Homo sapiens: one gene and its partner. The protein of the gene in region 1 purifies or fractionates together with the protein of each later gene. This does not show direct contact. Each region holds a gene or a part of one and is shown in the gene's direction. Other genes may lie near its edges.

Region 1 (3,500 bases):
GTTATTAGCAAATGCAGCTCTTTGAGATAAATTAAAAATGAATCATTTTAGGTCAGTAGTATCTGTTGTGTTCACTTATCAATGGAATTCACTTGTATTTGTTAGTGATCTTATCTAGAGGAATTATTCTTACTCGTTAAAAACTTCTTAAAAATGTTTGTGTGGCAGTAGATAACCTAAAAGAAAACTGTCTCTGTTGTCATGTTCAGAGTCAGGGTCACCAAAGACATGAAAATGAGAAAGATGAGCCATTATCATCCCTTGCCCTTAGCTCTTGTAAGAAAATAGTAGATGTAGCTATAGCATTTGTGGAAATGAATTTCTGTCTCTGATCACAGTTACCAAATAATTACTAATGGTGTTTTGGGGGAAGGAGAAATGATTGAGGGAGATTATCATATGATACTTTATTCTCCAAATGTAATGGAAGCACTTTCAACTCACTTATAATGTATCATTCATGATACATTATACTAGTGCTTTTAGAAAGCTTTACTTACTTTTCAGAACCTTCATGAATTGATTCATTTCCATTAGTGGCCAGCAGACCTTCACGTATTTTAGCTACTGCAGTGGATTAAAAAAATAAAATCCTTAGTATATAAACATTTGATTGGTTTATTGGACTGTTCCTTTCTTACAATTGTTTATGTTTCAGGAGTCTTTGGGAGAAACAGTAATAGAGAAATCTTGACAGTCAATATGTGTTACATTCTTTTTAACCTGTTTTCTTATTTCAGCTTTACTTTTAGAAGCCCAGTCAACACCATTTCAGGTCACACCTTCAACTATGGCAAATATTGTGAAAGGCCTGTATACCCTCAGACCAGGTAAACATTTCTCATTTCTGTTGGGATTGGAACTGTTTGTTACAGCCTTTTCCAAGAGGGCAGTGGTTCTGTATGTGTTTTGTGAGGCTTAATGGTACTTGGATTTGCTGGAGCAAAAAAATTGAGTAGATACTCATCATTGTGAAATGTAAACTCAGAGCTCAGTTGGAATGTTCTCTGCTAGTGGAAACCAACTAGTGTGGTTTTTGCAGAACCTGTGAGGGAAATACAAGAAATAAATTGTAGGATACACTTTGGATAAAATTGAATCTCATGTTTGGTCTTAGTTTCTTCTTTACTTCCTGCCTCACGCTGCACATACTTACAGACATCCACATTCACAACCCCGTCTTCTTAGGCCTGTTAAGTAACTTGCGAAGAATCTAGAAGTGTTGGTAAAGTTACAGTCATTTTGTAAGGATGTTCTGGGGAGAGAGACAATCACAAGAACCAAAGCAAATACCAAAGATCACTATAGTCAAAAGCATGGTTTTTAAATTCTTAATGTGTCTCTCTATCTTAGAATAAAACATTATAAATTTAAAGGAATCCCAAGGAGCTTTTGTATATATCTTTCTATAAGCCGGAACCTCAAACTTGTCATAGAGTTGTCTAGCAACTTATAAATGTCCATGGGAGAGAGATTACAAAAGTTATCAGGATAGAACGTTGTTCTACAATCTATAAATACAAGGAATGCTTTTTAGATAGTAATTACCTTTTTGTGAAATTCTTTTGTTGTTTGAGGATTAAATGAAATAAAACATGATATAAAGAGCTTAACGCACAGTACCTGATAACATAATAAGCATGCAAACATTCACTGCTGTTATTACTATCCATTTGAGTTTAATGGTTATTTTAATTAATTGATGGCTTGTTTGCTTAATTAAACGACCTGTCAGAATTTAGCAAGCTAAAATGGAAACCAAGTGAAAACTGGTACTGGTAGACTGATTTTAGAAATACCTTCTTAGGCTGGGTGTGGTGGCTCACACCTGTGATCCCCAGCACTTTGGGAGGCCGAGGCGGGCAGATCACGAGGTCAGGAGATCCAGACCATCCTGGCTAACACGGTGAAACCTCGTCTCTACTAAAAATAGAAAAAATTAGCCTGGTATGGTGGCGGGCGCCTGTAGTCCCAGCTACTTCCTGAGCTGATTGTACCACTGCACTCCAGCCTGGGCGATAGAGTGAGACTCCATCAAAACAAAACAAAACCCTTAGGCTACTTTAAATGATTAATGACATCTAGAGTATTCAAATTTATTGTTAAATTTGGATCTAGGGTTTGAGCTTTACTTTCTGTGACTTTTAACAGAAATTACTTGTATAAAGTAGTAAAGATTTTATTGCATATGTCCAATAAACTGATACTTTTCTGTATTTAGTTTCTCAGAATTTTACAGCAGTGTGATGAAGATGGCTCCTGAAATAGTGTGTGTACCAGGTTATGAATGATTTTTTTTCCTTTGAAAGCATCTAAGTGCAGTATGACAAATTCTGCCTCCCAAGTAGGCAGCTTATAAGCACTGGCTTTTATCATACGTAACAAAATTGCAAAATAAAGTTTATCACTAAAGGTAGAAAAGTATTGTGGGTACATGTTTATCTAAATGCTATTTTATCCAGGTTCAAGCTCTTGTAATAGGATTTATACTACTTGTAAGGAGAATTCTATATTTGAGAATTGTCCTTTTGAAAAGGTGAATTTTATCACATACTAACCTTTTGCTGCCCTGCACATTTTCTGAGATACTTGAAAACATATTTTGACATTTACATGTTTTGCCAGTACCCATTATGTTCCTGCTTTATTAAAGCCATTTTATTCACCTGACAGATTAAGATTAGAATATTTTAAAAGTTGAATTTTGAAAGCAAAAGTTTGTTCTACTGCAGTAGTTCGCAAGTGCTGGTCTTTGTATGACTGCATCTGAGTCACTTAAGAAGGCTTTTTAAACTCTAGATTCCTGGGCTGTAATCCTTGGAGATTCTCATGACTTACCATTTTTGGCATCCATTCTTTAGAAATAGTTCCAGCAATCCTATTCTGCCCGTTTTCATTTAATACACACACTTTGTTTCTTCATCTTTATTTTGTGGCAGATGGGTTTGACTTTGCCAGCTGTGACTGATTAGTGGTTCTCTGTAGCACTGTATTGAGACTCTTAGTGAAGCCATATTTGAGCTGGACTGGAAGGAGGGAAGCATTTTGCCACGAGTTTCTCCCAAGGCGTGACTGAATGGATTGGTCCTTGTATCATTTGCAGTGCTTATTTGCCAGCTTTAATTAGCTATTCTCCTGTTAGACGTTTTATTAACTTCTACTTTTTTACTTACCACAGAGCAAATGTTCCACAGCATCAAGCGTGGCTTTTTCTGATTTATAATCATTTACTCAGATTATCGTTTTTAAAGTGATTCAAGAGCATTAATATTTTTATAGTTTTTGACATGTGTAGCCAAAATGTTTTCCAAGAGGAAAAATGTAAAAGGGCTAGATTAAAACAATTCAAAATGAGTAATAGTGTTAATTGAGGACCACCACCAAGGAAGGGAAATACTGGTTTCCCCATGCCCTTGATACAGGTGGGTGTTAATTCTCTTTAATGTTCACTGAATAAAAAGGAGAGAGTATATTTATTTTAGCTTGAATTTTTTTAAATA
Region 2 (3,500 bases), on another chromosome or scaffold:
AGACATTTTTAGAATTTACCTTTAATAGTGCTGTAACTTTTGTTGAATTAATTTGTTAGTTCATGAAGGACTACTAGTAGAGCAGTTTCATTGTCTTCAAATTGGAAACAGAATTATGCTCTAGATACATCAAGAAACTATAGTCCTAATTGATTATTCACTGAACATTCCCAGTTACAAATTTTGCAGATTATCACACTTGTCCCATAAGTGGTGGGGTGGATGAGTTTGTGGTCTGACCAGTGGTGCCCCTCATCAATGTCTGATCTGACACAGAAGCAGAGTTTAAAATAGTCTTTAGGTTAGCACATTTATTTTTAGAAGACAGTGTTGCTCTACTGAAATTTCCCCAAAGTAAGTTGCTAGTTAAAGCTTTAACTGCAAAGCAAGATCTGTACCTAAAATTCTAAGGGACTAACTTTTCTTAATCCCTTCTTTATTAAAACAGTTTTCCACACAGTTGATAGTTGATACTTTCATTAGACCAACCTTCTTTTCTTTTATAAGACCAATGGGTAAATAGAACTCAGTGTATAAAATTTCACCTTTCACATAGAGCTTTTCTAGAAAAGTGCCTTTTTCTTGAGGCACTGTTTTAGCTCATTGCTGTTTATTTTAGTACTCCTGTGTTTCTTTTATGTCTTAAACTCAGATTTTACTGTGTATTTAATTTTCTGCATATTTTAGTAAAATTTTAACAACTTGAACATGGTAAGTTGGCAAGATTTTCTTTACCCCAAAATGTTGTGCGCATTTTGAGCCATTTAATATTTTTGTACTTTGTTTTCTTTGGAGATAATATAAATACACATATGTACTTTTTTTTCTGTTAGAACTATACTTGTTCGTTGAAGTTTTCCTTAAATTTCAAAATATGACTTTTGCCTTTTCTAATAACAAATAAGAATCGTTACAGAGGTCAGAAAATATCTAAACTCAGCATTAACCATCTTGGCTTCTGTAATATGAATAGACTGTACTTGAGACCGCTGTTCTTTATTGTGGTACCAAGTTTACCCCCAGCCATTACAGCATACTGCTGGAGACAGGCTTTGTATTTGTTAATAGTTACTTTGATGGAAGAGGTGGGAAGAAAACAGAATGAGATTTTGATGTTACTCTTTAACCTTTTTTTTTTTTTTGCCCCCACAGCAAGTTGAAGTCGATTGCCAACAGTGTATGCTCGAAATCCTGGATACTGCAGGGACAGTAAGGATGTTTTCTCTTTTTTTGATAGATTTTAATTTGTGAGCAGGTTTTGTCATCTGAGTAGGTTTTGTCATCCAGATAATTCTGAGTAAAAGTAATCATTCTGATTAAGAAGAAATTCTCTGAACATAGGGATTCTTAAGTATATGAAATCAACTCTGATGTAGTTCATGCTCACATATCACAAAGTTCACCTGTAATAATCTGTGTGTTGGGTTTCTTCCTACATTGAGGTAAGGATTATGCTGTCAGTGATTTTTTAAAATTTATTTTAAATTTAGAGCTTTAGTTAATATTTGTATTTCTATGGGTTTAAATAAGACCTTGTCTCTTGGCACCATAGTCATTAATTTTTATAATTTTTTCTTTTCACTAGCATTTTGACATCTCAAGGGGCTGGTGACAGATACATGTTTTCTGAGGAAGGCAAAAATCTTCCTCAGAAGATTTAGAATTATTTTGAGCCTCCTTTTTCTAATCTTTAAATGAGTATAATGATGTTAGTACATCATAAGGTGTTTGTGATAAGCAAATGAGTTAATAATTATAAATCATTAGGCATAATGTCTGTTACACAGTATGGAATTGTGTATTTGCTTTTATTCTTCTTCATTAATACCATCACCTTTATAATTTTTATTAATAACTGATGGTTTCCAGTTATACTGCCACATAAAATACATACATTAAGCAATCTTTGCTTTTCTTTGTTTATTTTTCTCCATGCACATAGACTTGACACATTAGGCAATTCTTAGCTTTAAAATGGATGGGTTCGTTTTTTGTTTTGCTTAAGAGACGAGGTCTTGCTCTGTCACCTAGGCTAGGGTGTAGTGGTGCAATCATAGTTCACCGCAGTCTCCTGGGCTCAAACAGTCTTCCTGCCTCAGCCTCCTGGGTAGCTAGAATTAAAGGCACGTACCACCACCCCCAGCTAATAAAAAAATTTTTTTTGTAGAGGTGGTTTCGCTGTGTTGCCCAGGCTAATCTCGAACTCCTGACCTCAAGTGTTCTTCCTGGCTCTGCTTCTGAAAGTGCTGGGATTATAGGTGTGAGCCATGGCACCTGGCTGGCATTTTTAAATGTGATAAGTTGTTTAAAATTCAGCACAAAGTTTTCCACTATAATTTTTATAAATGATGGAAACATTTCAGATAGTTCAAAAAAGCATGTAAGCAAATTGGAGTGATTTTATACAACAATATAGTACTAATTATACTGTATTTTTCCATTCTTTTTTGGGAAAATGGCTTAACTCTTATCAGGGACCTTTGCCCTCACAACAAGCTTCTGGTAAAGACCTTCTGAAACTACATTTTCTATCAGCTGAATCAAGCTATCTCTCCCTCTCCCACCCTCCTGCTCTCTAATGTTTTTAGCTTCTGAATCAGCAGAATTCCCCTTTGTTTCCAGAGACCCTAATAGCTAAAATGAATACTTTCTGCTTTTTTTTTTTTTAAATCACATCCACAGTGTACGGGCATTCTTCTTTCTCTGTCCAGATTGTAAGAAGGAAGTTCTCTATCACAGAGATCTTTACTTTGTGCTATCCAATATCGTGTCTGTCTCCCATCTAGCACTCAACACGCTGTGTTATAAGGCCTATTTGCTTGTTTGTGTCCCCAGTACCTTGCATAAAACCTTACAAACAGCTGCATAATCTTGTCTCAAAATCACTCCTTACACTTTGAAGATTTTTGCTTTCTCTCTTTCACATACACTGATTCAATCAGAATTCTTAGTGATTTTACTATCCATATAGAATCTATATGGATATTATAAATGATTTACTACCCTGGCTTGGCCTGTCATTTCCTTGATGTCCATCCTACCTTTAAGGCATTCATACCATGGTTTTACTCTAGGCTATGTGATTACCAATAAGTATAATACCTCTCTAATCTAATTTCCAAGCATCTTATCCTCCATTACTCACTACTTTTTTCTTTATCCATCTCACTTCCTCTTTTTTTTTTTTTTTTGAAACAGGGTCTCTCTCTGTCACCCAGGCTGGAGTGCAGTGGTGTGAACACAGATCACTGCAGCTTCAACCTCCCAGGGTCAAGAAATCCTCCCACCATAACCTCCTGAGGAGCTGGTGCTACTGCAGGTGCATACCACCACACCTAGCTTTTTTTTTTTTTTAATTTTTTGTAGAGACAGGGTCTCACTATATTGTCCAAGCTGGTCTTGAACTGGACTCAAGGGATCCTCCTGTCTTTGGCCTCCCAAAGTGCTGGGATAACAGGTGTGAGCCACTGCACCCAGGCCATCTCATTTCCTTTAGTGCC

The links.
Region 2: the proteins of CACUL1 (region 1) and RAP1A purify together in Homo sapiens (affinity purification with mass spectrometry; one large-scale study listed by BioGRID and IntAct). This does not show direct contact.

What each region holds. Positions count from the first base shown.
Region 1 is NC_000010.11:118,692,471-118,695,970, reverse strand, and holds part of CACUL1 (CDK2-associated and cullin domain-containing protein 1), read left to right. Parts: intron 1-740; coding exon 741-830; intron 831-3,500.
Region 2 is NC_000001.11:111,696,289-111,699,788, forward strand, and holds part of RAP1A (ras-related protein Rap-1A precursor), read left to right. Parts: intron 1-1,152; coding exon 1,153-1,209; intron 1,210-3,500. UniProt on the Homo sapiens protein: Counteracts the mitogenic function of Ras, at least partly because it can interact with Ras GAPs and RAF in a competitive manner. Together with ITGB1BP1, regulates KRIT1 localization to microtubules and membranes.